Linked DNA regions of Homo sapiens. The protein of the gene in region 1 interacts with the protein of each later gene in a pairwise test. Each region holds a gene or a part of one and is shown in the gene's direction. Other genes may lie near its edges.

Region 1 (7,992 bases):
TTACATACATTATTCTGCAGCTTGGGTTTTGGAGTAGGGTTTTAAACCAGAGTCAGACTCCAAACCCCAAGCTGCAGTAGTGACTTAGCTACTACATCCTACTAGAAAGGCCAGGCAGGTAGACATGCAACTCAGGGTAGTTCCACTTTACTTCTTTCCATTTGTCTTGGATTAAAACTGATACAATCGTTTATATCACGTTCCCAAAGGTTTTTTTTTTTACCAGTAACTCTTATCATCACCTGGTATCTCTACCAATAACTACAAAGGCATCTTGTTGCAGATTCACAGCTTCTTTCTCGCTGATGTCAATAAGCACTCTCTGCATATCTTGTTCCTCAGCATTTGCTAAACAGGTGGCATGTTCCTCCCAGGATGGTGCCAACATTTCACCCAAAGGATCAACCAATTTTACACCATTGTCTTCCTTAAAAGAAAAACAAACAATAAGCAATCTGTGCATACTCATGAGGCTGAGTTGAGAACAGAACTCAAAAGCTGTTTCCCTTCAACCAAAGACAGTGATGGCTGAGCAGCTTCAACAATAAACACCAAATATTAATACTGGACCCTGGATTAGGTATTTTATGTATATATATTACCTCATTAAATCCTCATGACACACATAATCAATTAAACTAATAATCCTATTTTAATTTCAATCTTCGAGAAAACTGAGCTTCAGAGAGGTTAGGTAATTTGCTTATGATCATACAGCTAACAAATGTCAGTACTGATATTAAAACAGCAAGTCTATCTTACTCGCCTAAAAACACTATGCCACACTAGCCTTTGTAAAAGGCTGTGATCTGTGCATCCACTATCCATAAACTGACTAGGGCACAAGTGGAGCAGAATAAGGGCACACAGAGATCCTTCTCACTATGACTCGGAACTCCAAGAACACACTAGCCAGCTTGTCAACCAGCGGGTAGGACAGACACTGAAAACTGCCTCCCAACACTGTTCTGCTCAAATTCGTGGAAAGAAAGTGTAGTTCACAGTGAATGTCACCTGAAAGAAAAGAGAATCATTTTGAGAAGTGCCTCTGGAACTAGCAATAAATGTGAGGGTCTTCCTAGAAGTCAATCAGTCAATCAATTATGGTGACTTACATATTTAGACATATACACATTTATAATGATCACATATTTGGACAAGCAATGCCCTTGTTTGGGGGAAGAGGAGGTTACAATCCTTCACAGACCTACACCACTTTAACTTGCTGCTGATTTAGCTACAAAGGCAAAAATCCCACAGCCCCAGCAATCAAATAGAAGCATATTATTCAAACCCTGTATTAATGGCCTATAGCTAATAAAGAATAACTACATTGTGTCAAGAGGTTGGCTAAGATATAGAAACAACAAAAGTGCTCATAAACAGATAAATGGATGAAGAAAATGTGGTATATATACACAATAGAATATTATTCAGCCTTAAAAAAGAAATACTGCCATTTGCATCATGGTTGAATCTGGAAGACATTATGCGAAGTTAAATAAGCCAGACACATGAAGACAAATACTGCAGGCTCATAACATACATGTGTTATGTAAAAAAGTGAAACTCACAGAAACACAGAGTAGTATGGTGGCGGCTAGAGGGTAAGGGAAATGGGGAGATGCTGGCCAATGGGCATAAACTTGCAGTTATAAGATGAATAAGTTCTGGAAGACTAACGTACAGCGTGGTGACTATAGTTCATAATAATATATATTGAAAATGTGTTGAGCGTACGTCTTAAGTATTCCCACCACAAAACAAGGTAACTATGTGAGCTAATGGATATGTTAATTAGCCTGATAGTGGTAATCATTTCACAATGTATACATATATCAAAACATGGTGTTGTATGACTTGAATTATACAATTTTTATTTATCACTTATACCTCAATAAAGCTGAAAAAATAATTGTGTCAAAAAGAATACTTTGATTAAAATCTAACTGTCACAAAGACTAGAACTATCAGGCGTCATCAATATTCTGCCAAAGCTCACCTGTTTGTTCATTCAGAACAAGAAATTATTGCCGAGCTATAAAAACCTGTCTGAAAATGTTCAAAATGTTTCTTTTCAAATCTTTACCCTTCCCCACCCAACCCCAATATCTTTAATCACTGCTAAGTTAACAAAGGAAACAATTTTCAATTACTGAAAATGTCTTAAATCAATAAATTTGGAAGGACATTGTTATTTCTCTAATATGGACACTCCAAAAAATGACAGTATCTTTTCATTCTTTCCACACCCTTAGGAATCATGAGCTTAATGATCATGCTCTTAAAAAAAAAAAGTTGTTTCACATCCAAAGCACATATAAATGAGAAGGCACATTCCTAGAATTAGAATTTGTACTTTAGGTCAATTTGCTCAGACACTAAGGCTTGGTCTTGTAAATAATGGTCTGCTTTATCAGGGCACTAAACCCATTACCTCAGGATTGTGGGACGCTGTTACCATGACTCCTATAGTGGATTTTGTCTGTTTTGACCTCAGGACAGCTAATAATCCCATGCGAAACATGACATGATCAAGATGTTCTGCCTTCGTTCGAAATCCAGCAGTCCCGTATTGAAGGATCAGTCCATTGGGCTTGGCGTGTAATGCTGAGTATTTTGTAATAGCACCTAAATCCATGTCTACAAAATTAAGAAATATTGTTTCGGGCATAACAAGTAATTTCTTAAGAACCATTTGCTTCAAAAACTGCCACCCCAAACGAATAGGTCTGTCTCATCCTGAACCTCCTCAAAGAACCCTATGTTTGACAGAGCAATGGGCAGGAGAGTAAGTCCTGTGGGTTAGAATTACCTACAAGATGTTGTCCAACTTGGTATGTCCACTCCTGGGCAGACTCAGGGCAGATAGCAGATTGTCCCCACTCTCCTCCCATTTTAGCTCCAGGACTATCCTGGACGCCGGGCACACTTAAATTGGTCCACTCTCAACTAAAATGAAGATTTTACACCTATTCAGAGACTCCAATGAGCTCAAAGATCATTTCATTTTACAAAAAGGGAAACTAACCTAAATTAACATAGATAGCTGGTGACGGATTGAGGCCTAAAGTCAGATTCTTGAGTGGACTGAAACTACATATCCCCAAATATCTGAGAAATCTTTGTGGTTCTTTTGCTATTTCTCCCAAACTACAGAGACATATTCTTAAAGGAAAAGCAAAAGGCAACAGTTTCTTCTCCAAGACTACCCAGATCTTTTTCCATTTGCTAAAAACAATCAGGACACCCTTCTAAGATGTTGCTCTAAAACTAGCAATATCTTCTTCTGAAAGAATGCCACCTTTTTCCTTTACTTTTAAAAATAAAACATCGGCCGGGAGCGGTGGCTCACGCCAGTAATCTTAGCACTTTGAGAGGCCAAGGCAGGCGGATCACCTGAGGTCAGGAGTTTGAAACCAGCCTGGCCAACATGGCGAAACCGCCTCTCTATTAAAAATACAAAAAAATTAGTCGGGCGTGTTAGCTGGCGCCTGTAATCCCAGCTACTCGGGAGGCAGAGGTTGCAGTGAGCCGAGATCGCGCCACTGCACTCCAGCCTGGGTGACAAAGGGAGACTCGGTCTCAAAAAAAAAAAAAAAAAAAAAAAACAGGCCAGGTGAGGTGGCTCAGGCCTGTAATCCCGGCATTTTGGGAGGCCAAGGCGGGCGGATCACGAGGTCAGGAATTCAAGACCAGCCTGACCAACATGGTGAGACCCTTGTCTCTACTAAAAATACAAAAAGTAGCCTGGCGTGGTGGTGCGCGCCTGTAGTCCCAGCTACTCAGGAGGCTGACGCAGGAGAATCGCTTGAACCCGCGGGTGGAGGTCGCAGTGAGCCGAGATCGCGCCACTGCACTCCAGGCTGGGCGACAGGGTGAGACTCCGTCTCAAAACAAACAACAACAAAAAATCGGCCCTTAGCCCACTAATACTGTTTTCTCTGGGATACTCCCATTAAGTGGAACTTGGGGTTTCCAACCTCAGTCAGTAGTTTTCCTTCAGTAGTCCATATACTACATTTCCTGGGTCAATTAATTCCCAATTAGCCCAGAGATGAGGAGCAGTCCGCCAGCTGCTAGCCTCATAATTTTGTTTTCTTTATTGTCCTTCATTGCTTCAATGAACAGAACTTGCAAGAAATGGTGAAAAATACTTGCTTTTGTCCAGTTGGAAAAAGCTGGCATTCAGTAAACTAATTTAGTTCAAGACAGTGATCAGATCTCTTTCCTAAGGATGAATACATATTTGTAAAAACTGAGCAGTCAGTTATGTGTCATGATTATTCATAAGAGTGTAAACCAGTCCTGTTAACTCCAAAAAGCCATTAAAAAAAAAAAGGTCCAGATAATATGAGTTCATCCTTTCATGCGTTTTAGGCCCTACAACTACTTTCAATGCCTCTGCGAATGCCTTTATTGAAAGCATATTTGCCAAATCCAGCGTCCACGCAAAAAGTTAAGAGTATCCCCCTACTCTCCATTCAATCTTCAAATCTCCTTGGTGCCTCTCTCCCGCCTACCCTCGAATCACCGCACAAGGGTGATTCCCGGCACTCCACCCTGAGGTCCCCGCCTAGGTCCACGTACCAGAGCCCCGGCAGGAGACCCGCGGCCCGTCCCGACCAGCCCGCCCGCGGGGCGCAGGGGCCTGTAGGTGTGTCCCGCGCGCTCCGCCGCTCGGTCAGTCGCCCGCCAGACCACTAGCCCCTCCGTCGGGCCGAGAATCTGACCTGTCCCGCTCCCACCGAGCCCTTGCCGACCGGTAGTCTCCCTTCTCAACTCCGAGCCTCGGGGCCCGGCTTACCTCGGTCAGGAAGCCCCCTTCACCTACACGCAGCGGAGAAGCGCCCAAGCAACAACGTCTGCACCCAAACCCAGTCCTCAGAACCGCAGACGTGGCCCTGCGTGGCTTCCGGCTCGTCGCCACGCCCCCTGGCCAATCACGGCAGAGGACTATCCGCCAGCCCCGCCCCCGCCTCGCCGCAGGTCGCGCGCAGCTGGCGCCTGAGGAACTGCGGCTGCGGTTCCGAGCGGGGTCTGGGGCTGTTACCATTGAGTGACCAGAAAGGGTGAGGCCCCCGCGGTGGCCCGGGGGTTGGGGCCGAGGGTCGCGGGCCCTCAGAGCACTGCGGCCGCGGAGGCACAGCCTCCGCCTCCAAATCCGGGCCTCTGGGGGCGGCAGGCCCTGCGTTCCTGGGAAGCCGGGGTTCCTAGTGGTCTTGGCTAGGGGCGGGGGTGGGGAATCAGCCCCGTCGCTGGGCCTCGGACAGGGCGACCTCGCCCACAGTGAGCGCCGCCGGCGGCCCGCATCCCCCTCTCCGACGTCGAGGTCATCTCCCAAACCTTTGAATCTGGGAAGCCTTCTCCGGCTGCCGTCTCCCCGGGTACCCCCTTCCCCCAGCTCACTGTAAACATCTTTTATTTAATGACCTCTGAGACACCCCCTACCCTTATCCTGGGTCCCTCGGGGCAGAGGCCAGTGAATCGTAAACGTCCGGAGCCCTGGAATGCGGCCCAAGCGAAAAGGCCACCGCGGTGTTGGGGGGGGGCGGTCCGCGAGTCCAGGACCGAGGGGTGGCGACTGGCGCTGGGGAACTCGGAGCCCATCCTGCTGGCACTGCGGCCTCTCTCGCCGCAGCGTCTGGCTCCGCCCAAGCCCGAGCCCCGGGTGGGATTGGAAGCCGGGCCCCAGCCTTTCCCAGAATTCAGGCTTGCAGAGCGTCTGCAGGTGTCTGCCTGCCACCTGCAGCGGGACAGTTCCAAACACCTGTTGAAAGTGCAGATTCCCCTATCTAGTGCGGGGTGCGGGAGGCGGGAACCCGGAGCCCGGGTACGCAGAATATGGGTTTTTACGGAGTGTTTTAGAGGATGTTGTGCATACTAGATTTTGGAGTCAGGAAATAAAGAAGAGTGCAAGTGTCTGGTTTGTGCCCCTAGCTCTCGGTGCAAAGCGTTCCTGCAGAATTGCTTCCACGTAAAGGGACCTTCGGGAAATTTCGCTGGATACCGGCTGGCATTGACAAACCCAGCGTCCCTGAGCCTTGTGAGGTTTCCAGGCAGGCTGATTGCGAGGCAACATGTCTGCTTCGGTGAAAGAAAGCCTTCAGCTTCAGCTACTGGAGATGGAAATGCTGTTTTCTATGTTTCCTAACCAAGGAGAAGTAAAACTTGAAGATGTAAATGCCCTGACGAATATAAAGAGGTATTTGGAAGGCACAAGGGAGGCGCTGCCACCAAAAATCGAATTTGTAATTACACTCCAGATTGAAGAGCCCAAGGTAGGTACCCTGATTTAAGTGTTTGCCAGGTGCCCAGTTTTTAATTGAAACATCTAGAACATGAGCTTTCTGTCAAGGAAAGATAGAAATATTCCAGGTGCATATTTCCTTGTTTGAAAGATACGGAATGCTCTATAAATTGTCTTCAGTAAATATCTTTAATTTTATGTAAACATATACACCTTTTTAACAAATATACCTGGAGTTTTTATTGACGCTATCTTGCAGTCTTATGCCATTATTATTTTGTTCACCCATCCAGTTGGACTACCTTTCACATGTATCATGATTTTCATAAATCTAAATATCTCCTGTAACATAACTGTCTTTTAAGGAGTGAATGAGTGGATTTTTTGATGGCACCATAACACAGAAAGCAAATATGGATGGAAAAATCTAAAGACTAAAAATGAATTTACCTCCATCTTCTGATCCATTTATCTCCAGCAACATTAGCATAGCATAGGTAATACGTGGACTGGGCATTTGAGAACCACTGTTGTAGCTATTTCCTACTCATCCTTCAGTTGTTATTCCCTCAGAGGAGACTTTCTGGTTCTCCAGACTGGATTCTGTCCCGCTGGTTACACACTTCAATGGAACCCTCCACTTTTCCATGGTAATGCTTTTCACAATTGAAATTAAATACTTGCTATATGTAATTATTTGTTTAATGTGTGTCTCCTTCACTAGGCCCTGGACTTCATGAAGGGCAAAAATAGTGTCTGGTTTATTCACTTTTTTATCCCAGCACAAGGGCACCTGGCACACGTAGTTGTTCAATAAATATTGAAATAATGCATAAAAGGAAGCAATCATGTATGTAAAGTACCTGGTACATTTAATAGTAGCAATAACATTTCTCAAAATCATGCAGTTGCTATTGATAAACTAGCTTATGTGATGTTATGGTATTTAAATCTATTTGATTTTCATTTTAAGGTGAAAATTGATTTGCAAGTGACCATGCCTCACAGCTACCCCTATGTAGCATTGCAGCTGTTTGGACGGTCATCTGAACTTGACAGACATCAGCAGCTACTTCTCAACAAAGGTCTCACTTCTTACATAGGGACTTTTGATCCAGGTGAGCTCTGTGTATGTGCAGCAATCCAGTGGCTACAGGACAACAGTGCATCTTATTTCCTGAACAGAAAGCTTGTATATGAACCATCTACACAAGCAAAGCCAGTCAAGAACACATTCCTCCGAATGTGGATCTACAGTCACCATATATATCAGCAGGACCTAAGGAAAAAGATTTTGGATGTTGGGAAAAGGTTAGATGTGACTGGATTTTGCATGACAGGAAAGCCTGGTATAATCTGTGTGGAGGGTTTCAAAGAGCACTGTGAGGAGTTCTGGCACACAATTAGGTACCCCAATTGGAAGCACATTTCCTGTAAGCATGCTGAAAGCGTGGAGACAGAAGGAAATGGTGAGGACCTGCGCCTTTTCCATTCTTTTGAAGAGTTACTCCTTGAGGCTCATGGTGACTATGGATTAAGGAATGACTATCACATGAATCTGGGCCAATTCTTAGAATTTCTCAAGAAGCACAAAAGTGAGCATGTTTTTCAGATACTATTTGGTATTGAAAGCAAAAGTTCAGACTCATAAAAAGCGATTAAGAGGCCTATGCCTGTAATTTCACTAAGTCAGTATTTCTGTTAATAAGACCAAATTAAAAAGGCTAGTGGCTGTGTAGCAT
Region 2 (7,034 bases), on another chromosome or scaffold:
ATCCCAAGGCGCCCACGTCATGTGCACGTTTAACGTGGACATTGACACTAGCACCGCATCCCTTGACTCCACTGTATTTCTTTGTTTCTCATTTTAAAACTAGTGTGGGCCTTTGACAAGTTCCAAGAACATAAGGAGGAAAATGCACATCATCTGTAATTTCACCACTTAGAACCTCCGTTAACCTTTAGGTACATGTTCATTGGTTTTTGTTTACATATGTATACATCCTTGCATAGGTCTTAGTTACACTCTAAGCACAGATGCGTGTCTTGTTTTCAGCAGTTGATATATATTAAACATTTTCCCATCATAATGCTTCATGAACTTTGTAGTGGCTGCAAAGTATTTCACTATGCAGTTGTACCATACTGTAACCATTTCCCTAAATGTTAGCTTTTCCTAGCTTTTCTCTATTATAAAGTTGCAGGAAACATCTTTGTGCTGTAAATCTTATCTTTTCTCAAATCAGTCTGTGACAGTAGTACATAATGGTTGAGAGCACAGGCTCTGGAACCAAACTACCCGGATTCATATCCCAGCTCTGTCAGCTTCCATTTAGATGAACATGTTGCTTATTATCATCTCTGTGCCTCGGATTTCTCATCTGTGAAGCAAAGACAACAGCACCTACCGCTGAATGGTTAGGGGTTAAATGAGGAAGCATTTACATACTCAGAACGGTCTTTGGCACGTGACCAGCAGCACTTACGTACAAATATTGGCTATTACTTTTATTGCTGTTATTCTGATAAAATAACTGGTCAGAATATTCTGGTTTATTTTTAATGACAATATTAAGCTAATTTTTCTATTCTTCGCTATTTGATAGAAATCAGGAAGTCACTTCAGCATCTTATTGATTGATTTCTTTCTTTTCTAGATATACAAGAAGAGATGTCCTTCCACTAGGAAAATTTACAGTTAACTTGAGTGGTTGCCCACGGAATAGTACCTTCACAGAACACTTGTATCGAATTATTCAACATCTTGTTCCAGCAGTAAGATGAATATAAATATGTATTATAAACCTAAGCACACTTAAAAAATCCATCTAACTGTCTTTCATTCACTTCAAATATTTAACTTAGAGATTTTAATAGATCTTATTTAAGGGGAAACAAAGCCTGCCAAATTACATAATTTAAAATGTACGTTCCCCTAAACATTTCACTTTTTTTTGTCTTTTTGCCTAAGCACAAATTTCTGTAAGTCTAACAAAACAATTGTAGTAACTCCCTTAAAATTACACTCTCTTGATACCAATTTGTCCAATTTGGTATCCTTTTTGTACACTAAAGTCTTAAATCTAAATAAACTCTAAATTGTAGGAGCATAATTCTTTTAGTTGAGGTAATAAAGTTCTTTATCTCCATTGCCTCAATTTTAATTCCTGTTTGGAAAGTTGAGCTCACTTTATTTGCCAGGGTATCTGGAATGCAGTATTTGCGTGGTGGTAGGATCTTGGGAACAGGGGAATTGCTTCTGATTAGTTGTGTGACTGAAAATACTGATCACTTCTTTGGAAATTGAAGAGGGTGCACTAGATCTTTATTGAACCGAATGTATTCAGTGTCTCAGTGCTAACACTCGTCCAGGCCCTCAAGAAGCAGAAGTGGACTGGAATATACCAGCAGTTCTCAGTCTCCTTAGACTCACTTTACACTCTGAAAAATGTGTTCATACTCAAAGAGCTGTTTTTCACGTTATGATTATATTTATCATTAATTTACCAAACTAGAAGATAAAGTAAATACACCTATTAAAAATAAAAAATTACATATAAATATTTTTATAAAAACAACTTTTCCCAAGCCAAAAATGATTAGTGATAAAGGTGACATTGTTTTACATTCTTGCAAATCTCTTCAATGTCTGGATTAATAGGAGACAATGGATGCTTGTATCTGCTTCTGCCTTCAGTCTATTGTAGTCTCAGGTTTTGGTTGAAGTATATGAAGGAAAGCTGGCCTCACACAGATGGAAAAGTAGATGGTAAAGGAAGGATGGTTTCGATAGCCTTTGCAGATAACTGGGTGGTGGTCTTTGATACTAGACCAAAACTGTCCACATGAGATTTTCTTAAAGATAGTTAAGTGTGGAATCTGAAATCCTATTCGTAAACTTTCCATAGTCTGCTATGGTAAAATTCATTAGTCTCGCACATTGAAAGGATCTTTTATCCATGCATGATTTTGACCTGATTGACCCTGTAAAAGGGTTTAAGCAATTCCCTGGGGGTTCTCGGGACCACATTTTGAGAATTATTGAAACAGATCCTTTGCCCTCACAGAGTTTAGGTAGAAGACCAACAAATAAATTAATACATGGTAGGTCATTTAAGCACCCCTAAGCTCCCCGTTTTCTTAGAATCACTGAGGTAATACACAAAACTCCTCTAAATTTTCGCAATATATCTTACCTCTTCCTTGACAGCCTTCCCCCACCATACCCTCTTCTCCATCCCTGCCACATTGTTTGAGGCTGGAGGGATGGAAGAATGGATTGGTGTATAAGGCAGAGCACAGAGGGTGTTGGGAATGGTGGCTCAAGAGCTGGAGGAGGAGCATAGATGGTTCGCTTACTCGTTAAACACTGAGTGAGAAGGTGCTCGCGTCCTGGAGGCACCTCCTGAGAGCTGCAGGTCCATCCACAGCTCAGTGTGCTCTGCTCCTTGATTTTTCTCTGAAAAGTTTGTTCAAAAATGTCTATGATAAATGAATACAATTTTAACTCAAAGAATATAGAGGAAAATTAAGCTTTTCTCTCCCTGTCTTGAAGAGTAAAATTAACATTTTCTTTTTGCTAGCTAGCTTGTGTTAGGTGAAAGAGGTTAGGTTTTGGGGTATTTAATATTTATATGTCAGTTATCTACCATTTGTTTCATTGGTTAAATTAAAATTGATTTTCAAGAATATTGAACAAGACATTTGAGAATAAAGTAGCTCATAAAATGGATGAAATTCAAATGTAAGATCTAGATACTATTTTTGCTTCTGGAGTTCAAGAAACCATATCACTACTCCCTTAGAAATTTATAAGATCACTTTTTCCATATGAAACACAATGTTTAATTCCAAGTACATATTTTCTTAAAACAGGGAAACTTAAATTCTTGTTCACTAAAAAATTTCTCTTTGCAGTCTTTTCGTCTGCAGATGACTATAGAGAACATGAACCATTTGAAATTCATTCCCCACAAAGACTACACAGCCAATCGCTTGGTCAGTGGGCTCCTCCAGCTGCCCAGCAATACTTCCCTTGTAATCGATGAGACTCTCCTGGAACAGGGGCAGCTGGATACCCCAGGTACGTACATAGATGTTTCTCTTCCATTTCTGACTTCCTTCGCACTAAAGCCAGATCTAGGAATAACTTTTAGAAGAGTATCTATGGACAAATTCACATTTAACAACGTAAGATAAAGGCTTGGCATATGAATTTGATTAAAGCATATGTTATAAACTAATTATATACACCAACTATGTTTTGCCATAGTATTCTGAAAGTAGTACAATGGAACAGATATATATCTTATATAATATATCTTATATAATATATATCATATATAATATATAATGTCTCATTTAATATATATCATATATTATATATTTTATATATTATATAATGGAGCAATAATATAAAGGGTAGTATTAGTATAATGGAGCAGTAATATAAAGGGTAGTATTAGATGTTGAGGGTCGTAAGGGTTCTTTGGTGAAAAGTTTTATTGTGTCAGCGAATGGTTGGAGCAGTCTTTATGGGCCTACAGTGTTGGGTTCTTTTGCGTAGTTGTATATAACCTAAAATTTTTTTTTCAGTGAGTGTAAGGAATGGTAGAGACAGGGTCTCGCTATGTTGCCCAGCTGATCTTGAATTCCTGGGCTCAAGTGATCCTCCTGCCTTGGCCTCCCACAGTGCTGGGATTACAGGTGTGAGCCACTGCACCTGCCCCAAATAGCTTTTTAAAAAGCTGAAATGGGAGGAAGCTTTGCCTTTAGTCATCTAATACCTCAAAAGGGAAGTGTAGAAAAGATCTAATATAATTTTTTTTTTGTTTTGAGACGGAGTCTTGCTCTGTCGCCCAGGCTGGAGTGCAGTGGCCAATCTTGGCTCACTGCAACCTCCAACTCCCGGGTTCACACCATTCTCCTGCCTCAGCCTCCCGAGTAGCTGGGACTACAGGCACCCGCCATCACGCCTGGCTAATTATGTTTTAACCTCCCGTTGTAAAGTTTGTAAATGGTTTTCAGAGAATGTCTGAGAAATAATAGATCAAATGGTTTGCACTAACCTCAGTTGCGGAATATATTATAAAATCACAAGAAAGCAGATTGTTTACCAGTGCTCAAATGAAGACAATTAAGAATACACTGCTGGCGATCAGCTCAAGAGGTAAAGGTAGAAGAAAAAATGAGGTAGACTGGGCATGTTTAAGGCAAAGGGGAATATAAAATCTGTAAAATTCACTAGGCTGATCTATGTATGACGGTAGTTTTAGTGTTTCCTTGGTTTAGCCCTGTAAATACACCACTTAGAAATAATCATACTTGGGAACTATTTTATGTCTAGGTGCATACCAGATGCTAGGTATTAGATTTGCGGGGGTATCGCCTGCCCCCAGAAAGTTCTACCTTGACCAAGACTGTTGTAAGCCTACACACTTAGTGACGTTTAGCTTAGTAAACTGGACAGCGCCTCATACCCTTTATTAAAAGTGGTAGAAACTTCATGGCTCATCATCGGTGTCAGCAAAACTGATGTGTTTAGATGATTAAAGTCAAATGACTGAAAGTGTTTTCCTGCCTTTGTAGGTGTTCATAATGTGACAGCCCTGAGCAACCTCATAACGTGGCAGAAGGTGGATTATGACTTCAGCTACCATCAGATGGAATTCCCCTGCAATATTAACGTTTTCATTACTTCGGAGGGGAGGTCACTCCTCCCGGTATGATGAGTCATTTTTAAATGGAGGGAGGTTGACATTGGAAAAATACCTACATTTTTGCTGTTTCTTGGTACCGCTTATTAATAAGTTACATTTGTTGTAAAAAAAAAAAAAAAAAAAAAAAAAAAAAAAAAAAAACTGTGACTGCTGATCATTAAGGGAATTGAGTATTTTGCACTGCCATGGATGAAAACCTTACATCTACCAAGCTCAGGTATCAGCAAGTCATGAGACCAGCAAGGCTGTTGGCAGCAGAAACACCCACATCTGAGCATAGCGAGATTGCCTGATTTTAACATCCAGACTTCTGTTCTTGCTACCTTTGACCCATTGTTTTCTGCTAATCTTATGTGAAAAATATTTCAGAGTTCTTTTAAAATGTCCTTGGTCACTTGGTAGTTATTTTCATGCTTTGTGGTGAAATGCTCTGGTATGTCTTCAGAGTGGCTGGTAAAGAGAGCTTTTAATTCTGTGGATGATGGGAAATGCTCCCAGTTGTCAAATGGTGTGTAGTCTCTGAATAATAGTATTCACCTGCGATTGATGAGAAACCGCCTTTGACTAAGAATGAAATGGCTCAAGGATATGTTTTCTGTGTGCAAGTATTGATAGACCTTTTTAATTAGCTGCTTTTTAGAGGTTGGCTACATTTTTGTGTGCTTACTGATACCATTGAGGAAACATAAGTAACCAAGAAAAAGCTTTCATAATTATTTCTGAGGTAGTTATAAAGCATGTAAATTAATATTAAAAATAGATGCTCACTGGCTGCGGTGGCTCACGCCTGTAATCCTAGCACTTTGGGAGGCCAAGGCAGGTGGATTGCGTGAGCCCAGAACTTTGAGGCCAGCCTGGACAACATGACGAAACTTGTCTCTACAAAAAATCCAAAATTAGTCAGGCATGGTGGCGTGCACCTGTGGTCCCACTACTGAGGAGGCTGAGGTGGGAGGATCACTTGAGCCTGGGAAGCAGGTTGCAGTGAGCTGCAATCACACCACTGCACTCCAGCCTGGGTGACAGGACAAAACCCTGTCTCACACACAGAAAAAAAAACATTATTCCCTCCCCCTAAATAATAAGTGGTATTTTCTAATTCCCATAGGGGCTGACAGAGATGATGCATCTTTCTTTAAAAATGTAGATTAATTTAGGAACTCAGAAAATACAGTGTACTCCTTCTCTTTTCAGGCAGACTGCCAGATTCACTTACAGCCCCAGCTAATTCCACCAAACATGGAGGAGTACATGAACAGCCTTCTCTCAGCGGTGCTGCCTTCCGTGCTGAACAAATTCCGCATTTATCTAACTCTTTTGAGATTCTTGGAATATAGCATATCTGATGAAATAACCAAGGTATGTCTAGGTTAAAATAAAGGATTTCCCTGTGTTGAATTGCAGTATGCAACCAATTTACATTTACCATAATTACTGATAAGGTAATTTTGTTATTTGTTTTCTGTCATGTCTTTTTTTATTCCTCTGTTACTCCATTATTGTCTTTTTGTTTGAAATAGGTATTTTCCAGTGTCCCATTTTAATCCCTTGAAGTTTCTTAAAGTTATTTTCTTAGTAGTTGTCTTTGGGGGATAAACTTAACATGTTAGTATAATCATCTATTAGGGATTAATGCCAGTTTGTTTAGTTATTTTTAATTTAAAAAAAATTTGTGTGGCTAATGCCATTTTAATTATATTATACAAAGACTTTGCCCCTTTATAATTCCGTTCCTTCTCCTCTCCCTTGTGCTCCTGTCATACAATTACCTCTCAGTACATTGTATGTCCATCAACACATTTAGAATTACTGCTTTTGCAGTTGTCTTTTAGAGAAAAAAGTTAGAAATGGAAAAGACTTCTGTACTATTTTTTCTATTTGCCTATGCAATCACTTTTACCAGCACCCTTTATTTCCTCATGTGGGTTCATGTTACTGTCTAGTATCTTTTCATTTCAGCCTGAAGAACTGTCTTTAGTGTTTCTTGCATGGCAGGTCTACTTGTGCAAATTCTTTTTTTTTTTTTTTTTTTTTTTTGAGACAGGGTCTCGCTGTGTCATCCAGGCTAGAGTGCAGTGTTGTGATCATG
Region 3 (7,034 bases), on another chromosome or scaffold:
TTAGCTCCCCCTTATAAGTGAGAACATATGATGTTTGGTTTTCCATTCCTGAGTTACTTCCCTTAGAATAATGGTCTCCACCTCCACCCAGGTTGTCGTGAATGCCATTATTTTGTTCCTTCTTATGGCTGAGTAGTATTCCATGGTGTGTGTGTGTGTGTGTGTGTGTGTATGTATACATATTATATATATGTATATTACATTTTCTTTATCCACTCTTTGGCTGATGGGCATTTAGGCTGGGTCCATAACTTTGCAATTGCAAATTGTGCTACTATAAATATGTGTGTGCAAGTGTCCTTTTCATATAGTGACTTCTTTTCCTCTGGGTAGATACTCAGTAGTAGGATTACTGGATCAAATGGTAGTTCTACTTTTACTTCTTTAAGGAATCTCCATACTTAAGGTTTTCCATAGTGGTTGTACTAGTTTACATTCCCACCAGCAGTGTAGAAGTGTTTCCTTTTCACCACATTCATGCCAACATCTAATATTTTTTGTTTTTTTTTTAATTGTGGCCATTTCTGCAGGAGTGAGGTGATATCTCATTGTGGTTTGATTTGCATTTCCAGTGCTTAGTGATGTTGAGCATTTTTTCATATGTTTCTTGGCCATTTGTATATGTTCTTTGAGAATTGTCTATTCATGTCCTTAGCCCACTTTTTGATGGGATTATTTGTTTTTTGTTTTTGTTTTGTTTTGTTTTTTGAGACTGAGTCTCACTCTGTTGCCCAAGCTGGAATGCAGTGGTGTGATCTTGGCTCACTGCAACCTCTACCTCCCTGGTTCCAGCGATTCTCCTGCCTCAGCCTCCTGAGTAGCTGGGAATACAGGCGCCCGCCACCATGCCTGGCTAATTTTTGTGTTGTTAGTAGAGACAGGGTTTCACTATGTTGGCCAGGCTGGTCTCAAACTCCTGACCTCAGGTGATCCGCCCGCCTGGGTCTCCCAAAGTGCTGGGATTACAGGCGTGAGCCACCGCACCCGGCCTATTTGTTTATTTTTATTTCTACTTTATTTATTTATTTATTTATTTATTTATTTATTTATTTATCTATTTATTTATTTTTGCTGATTTGTTTGAGTTCCTTGTCGATTCTGGATATTAGACCTTTGTCAGATGCATAGTTTGGGAATATTTTCTCCCACATTGTGAGTTGTCTGTTTACTCTGCTGATTATTTATTTTGCTGTGCAGAAATTTTTTAGTTTAATTAGGTCCCATCTATTTATCTTTGTTTTTGTTGCCTTTGTTTTTGAGTTCTTGGTCATGAACTCTTTGCCAAAGCCAATACCTAGAAGAGTTTTTCCAATGTTGTCTTCTAGAATTTTTATGATTTCAGGTCTTAGATTTAAGTCCTTGGTCCATCTTGAGTTGATTTTTGTAGAGAGGTGAGAGATGAGAGATGCGGTGAGAGATGAGGATCCAGGTTCATTCTCCTACATGTGGCTTGCCAAATATCCCAGCACCATTTGTTGAATAGGGTGTCCTTTCCCCAGTTTATGTTTTTGTTTGCTTTGTCAAAGACCAGTTGGCTGTAAGTATTGGGCTTTATTTCTGGGTTCTCTATTCTGTGTCATTGGTTTATGTGCCTATTTTTATACCACTACCATGCTATTTTGGTAACTACAGGCTTGTAGTATAGTTTGAAGTCGGGTAATGTGATGCCTCTAGATTTGTTCTTTTTGTTTAATCTTGCTTTGGCTATGTGTGTTCTTTTTGGGTTTCATATGAATTTTAGGATTGTTTTTTCTAGTTCTGTCAAGAATTATTATGGTATTTTGATGGGAATTGCGTTGAATTTGTAGATTGTTTTTAGCAGTATGGTCTTTTTCACAATATTGATTCTACCCATCCATGAGCATGGGATGTGTTTCCATTTGTTTGTGTCATCTATGATTTCTTTCAGCAGTGTTTTGTAGTTTTCCTTGTAGAGATCTTTCACCTCCTGGGTTAGGTATATGCCTAAGTATATTATTTTTTTTGCAGCTGTTGTAAAAGGGGTTGAGTTCTTGATTTGATTCTCAGCTTGGTTGCTGTTGGTGTATAGTAGTGTTACTGACATATTGATTTTGTATCCTGAACTTTACTGAATTCATTTTTCAGATCTAGGAGCTTTTTGGATGAGTCTTTAGGGTTTTCTAGGTATACAATCATATCATCAGCAAACAGTGAGAGTTTGACTTCCTCTTTACCGATTTGGATGCCCCTTATTTCTTTCTTTTGTCTGATTGCTCTGGCTAGGACTTCCAGGACTATGTTGAACAGAAATGGTGAAAGGGGGCATCCTTGTCCAGTTCCAGTTCTCAGGAAGAATGTTTTCATCTTTTCCCTGTTCAATATAATGTTGGCTGTGGGTTTGTCATAGATGGCTTTTATTACCTTAAGGTATGTCCCTTCCATGCTGATTTTGTGGAGGGTTTTAATCATAAAGGGATGCTGGATTTTGTCAAATGCTTTTTCTGCATCTATTGAGATGATCATGTGATTTTTGTTTTTAATTCTGTTTATGTGGTGTATCACATTTATTGACTTGCATGTGTTAAACCAAACCTGCATCCCTGGTATGAAACCCATTTGATCATGGTGTATTATCTTTTTGATATGGTATTGGATTCAGTTACCTAGTATTTTGTTGAGAATTTTTGCATCTATGTTCATCAGGGGTACTGGTCTGTAGTTTTCTTTTTTTGTCATGTCTGTTTCTGGTTTTGGTTTGAGGGTAATACTGGCTTCATAGAATGATTTAGGGAGGATTATCTCTCTCTGTCTTTTGGGATAGTTTTAGAAGGATTGGTACCAATTTTTCTTTGAATGTCTGATAGAATCATGTGACATTTCAAGGAATTCATATATGTAAAGGCCCCAGAAGAGTGCCCGGAATGTAGTAAGTATTCTCTGCATGGTAGATATTATTATTAGCAATGCTGGTAGCTTTGCCCCAGATAAACTTTGCTTCCTTCACCATTTTTCCTAAAGTTAGCCCTAGGACCAGGTTATATCTGTTTCAGAATATTTTATTCCATTTTCCCCTATTGCCTAATTTGCACTCTCTCTCTCAATCTCTGTTTCTTTCTCTCTCTCTATTTATGTGTGGGTCTGTGTGTGTGACTTTTGAGGTAGGTGTGATGGGTGACCACTTTATATCCCTTGTAGAATAATGTCTACTATGGAATTTTCTTTTTTTTTTCTATTATGGTCCAGACTCTTCAGGAAATTTTAAATTTTTCTTTAATAAATACTATGATATTTTCTTTTTTATTCCTTTTTTTTTTTTTTTTTGAGACAGAGTTTTGCTCTGTCACCCAGTCTGGAGTGCAGTGGTGTCATCTCTGCTCACTGCAACCTCTGCCTCCTGGGCTCAAGCAATTCTCATGCCTCAGCCTCTCAAGTAGCTGGGATTACAGGCACGCGCCACCACGCCCGGCTAATTTTTGTATTTTTAGTAGAGACGGAGTTTCACCATGTTGGCCAGGCTGATCTCAAGCTCCTGACCTCAAGTGATCTGCCCACCTTGGCATCCCAAAATGCTGGGATTACAGGCATGAGCCACCACGCCTGGCCAATACTATGGTATTTTTTTTTTTCAAATAAAAACATGGTGAAGTTGCCAATGATTTCTGCATTCTAAAGCTGCCAGAAGGTTTACTTAGCTTCTTTGCAGTTCTAAGAATACTGGATGATACAGAAACACCTTCCAGGTTAGGCATTGTTCAGGATTTTTCTGATAACTAATGCTTACTCCTTTAAGCACCAATGCTTAAAATATTCTTCCACTTTGGATAGAAATATTTATTGTTTAAAAAAATTATGTTTATTACTTTTATTTTTTTATGGGACACTTCACAAATTTTTGTGTTATTCTCGTACAGGGGCCATATGAATATTCTCTGTATCGTTCCAATTTTAGTATATGGGCTGCTGAAGTGAGCACAAGATAGAAATATTTCTAAAATGTATGTCTTAATTTTCTCTCTTCTTAAATAAAAGGCACTGGAAACACTTTTATCTCTTTTTGGTAATTCATGCTGACCTGGGCATTATATGAATATTGTAATGAGGCAATATCTGACATCGTGGTTAAGCACATGCCTTCTCTAGTTTGGCAGACCTAGATTAGAATCTTGGCTTGGTCAATTACTGGCTGCATAACTCTGGGACAGTTACTTGACCTCTCTATGCTCCTTTTTCCTCATCTGTATAATGGAGACATTAATAGTATCTGCTGTATATGATTGTTTTAAGGATCAAATGAGATAATACATCCAAGGCACTTAATATAGCACTGCACATAAGGCATACACAATAGCTGTTTTCTGTGGTGTTATTACTCGGTAATGTTCTCTGCATTGTTGTGTGCAAAATTATTCTTGTAAGGTATATATAGGAGCCATATTGAGGCACTCCTAGAACCCAGAAAGAAGACTAATAAAATCAATACATAAGGAATGAGACCGAAAGCTGAGCTGGGGAGCACGAAGCAGCCAAGAAGACTCATCATCTTGTCTGAAGCTTCCAGGTAGCTGGAAGACAGACTTAAACATAAATATTTGCAAATGTCCCTGGATAGAGTCTCTCTCGGGCCCAAAGTGCCTGGCACAGTGCCTGGCATAGGACATACCTAATAGATTTTTGTTGACCCTATAAAACTGTAGATGTACAAAAAGCAAGAAGAGCAGGGCTTGACTGTTGCTTAGAACACAATATTATTTATCTAAAGAAAGCATACCGGCTTGAAATTGTCAGCTTGGAAATGCAGAAAAATGGAGCCGCAGATGCAGCACCGTACCGACAAATTGAGTACTGGGCTCTGGGGCATGGTGACGACATTAAAAAAGCTGTTGCCTTCTGGTCCTCTGGGTGGCCAGTCGGCTTCTCCAAGTAACCCCCATCTGTGTGTTCTCATATGGCTACAATGTCTTAGGGTCTTTAGAGGATCACACATTTAGTAACTGATCAGGAAAGTCTGCTGAGACATCTGGGAACAAAGTGCTCTCGGAAGCACCCCACCACCTTCTTGATAGTGTCCTTTGTAACACAATTTTTTTTGTTGTTGTTGTCTGTTTGTTTGAGACGGAGTCTTGCTCTGTCTCCCAGGCTGGAGTGCAGTGGCACAATCTTGGCTCACGGCAACTTTGGCCTCTTGGGTTCAAGTGATTCTCATGCCTCAGCCTCCCAAGTAGCTGGGATTACAGGTGCCTGCCACTATGCCTGGCTAATTTTTGTATTTTTAAGTAGAGACGGGGTTTTGCCATATTGTCCAGCCTCTCCTGGCCTCAAGTGATCCACCTGCCTCAGCCTCCCAAAAGGCTGGGATTACAGGCGTAAGCCACTGTGCCTGGCCCACAAAAATTTATTAATTAGACATTTTTGTTTTTTACTTTCAATTTTTGTGGGTACATAGCAGGTGTATATATTTGTGGGGTACATGAAATGTTGTGATACAGGCATGCAATGTGTAATAATCCCATCATGGAGAGTGGGGTATCCATACCCTCAAGCATTTATCCTTTGTGTTACAAACAATTCAATTACACTCTTTAAGTTATTTTAATAAGTACAATTATTATTGACTATAGTCACCCTGTTGTGCTATCAAATGGGCCTTATTCATTCTTTCAATTTTTTTTGTACCCATTAACCATTCCTGCCTCCTTCCCCAATATACTTCTCAGCCTCTGGTAACCTGTCTTCTACTCTCTATGCCCATTAGTTCAATTGTTTTTATTTTTAGATCCCACAAATAAGTGAGGACATGTGATGTTTGTCTTTCTGTACCTGGCTTATTTCACTTAACATAATGATCTCTAGTTCCATCCATGTTGTTGCAAATGACTGATTCTCATTCTTCTTTATGGCTGAATAGTACTCCATTGTGTATACATACCACATTTTCTTTATCCATTCATTTGTTGGTGGACAGTTAGGTTGCTTCCAAATCTTAGCTATTTGTGAACAGTACTGCAACAAACATAGGAGCGCCGTTATCTCTTCCATATACTGATTTCCTTTCTTTTGGGTAACATACCCAGCAGTGGGATTGCTGGATCATATGGTAGCTCAATTTTCAGTTTTTCGAGGCACCTCCAAACTGTCCATAATGGTTGTATTAATTTACGTTCCCACCAGCAGTGTATGAGGGTTCCCTTTTCTCCACATCCTCTCCAGCATTTGTTATTGCCTGTCCAAAAGTTTTTAATTTTGATGAAGTCAAATTCATCTCTTTTGTTGCTTGTGCTTTTGGTGTCATATCTAAGAAACTCATAATCAAATGTCTTGAAGAATTTTTTTCCTGTTTTCTCCTAAGAATAATATAGTTTTACTTCTTACATTAAGGTCTTTGATCTATTTTGAGTTAATTTTTGTATATGGTAGGAGGTACGGGTCCAAATTCATTCTTTTGCATATGCACATCCAGTTGTTTCAGTAACATTTGTTGAAAAGACAACATTAGCCAATTCCTCCATTGAACTGATTAATGTAGCTACGTAGTAAGTTTTAAAAGCGGGTCCTTCAACTTTGTTCTTCATTTTCAAAATCACTTTGGCCATTCTGGATCCCTCGCATGTCCATATGAATTTTAGGATCAGCTTGTCAATTTCTACAAAAAAGGCCAGCTGAGATTTTGATAGTGATTGTGTTCAATCTATAGATTGCTTTGGAGAGTGTTGCCATCTTAATAATATTAAATGTTTGAATCCATGAACATGGGATGTATTTCCACTTATTTGTCTTATGGGATGTATTTCCACTTATTTGTCTTTAGTTTCATTCAGCAATATTATGTACTTTTCAGTGTACATGTCTTATACCTGCTTGGTTCAATTTATTCCAAAGGATTTTATTATTTTTGGTGTTATAAAAAAATAGGATTGTTTTCTTGATTTGGTATTTAAATTGTTCACTGCAAGTGTATAGAAATATAATTATTTTTTTGAGACAAGGTCTTACTCTGTTGCCCAGGCTGGAGTGCAGTGGTGTGATTACAGCTCACTGCAGTCTCAAACTCCTGGGCTCAGGTGATTGTCCTACCT

What was found. The genes of interacting proteins can lie anywhere in the genome.
Region 2: the proteins of RWDD2A (region 1) and MCMBP interact in binary tests that used the Homo sapiens proteins (3 or more experiments, as listed by UniProt).
Region 3: the proteins of RWDD2A (region 1) and ARHGEF6 interact in binary tests that used the Homo sapiens proteins (3 or more experiments, as listed by UniProt).

The regions. Positions count from the first base shown.
Region 1 is NC_000006.12:83,188,372-83,196,363, forward strand, and holds the start of RWDD2A (RWD domain-containing protein 2A), read left to right. Parts: upstream 1-4,985; 5' UTR 4,986-5,072; exon of another isoform or gene 5,073-5,940; 5' UTR 5,941-6,080; coding exon 6,081-6,281; exon of another isoform or gene 6,282-6,897; coding exon of another isoform or gene 6,898-6,900; intron 6,901-7,223; coding exon 7,224-7,901; 3' UTR 7,902-7,992. Other genes in the region: PGM3 (phosphoacetylglucosamine mutase), read right to left, coding at 243-427, 2,438-2,643, 2,816-2,897.
Region 2 is NC_000010.11:119,834,810-119,841,843, reverse strand, and holds part of MCMBP (mini-chromosome maintenance complex-binding protein), read left to right. Parts: intron 1-883; coding exon 884-1,001; intron 1,002-3,143; coding exon 3,144-3,309; intron 3,310-4,814; coding exon 4,815-4,948; intron 4,949-6,139; coding exon 6,140-6,304; intron 6,305-7,034. UniProt on the Homo sapiens protein: Associated component of the MCM complex that acts as a regulator of DNA replication.
Region 3 is NC_000023.11:136,770,899-136,777,932, reverse strand, and holds part of ARHGEF6 (rho guanine nucleotide exchange factor 6), read left to right. Parts: intron 1-7,034. UniProt on the Homo sapiens protein: Acts as a RAC1 guanine nucleotide exchange factor (GEF).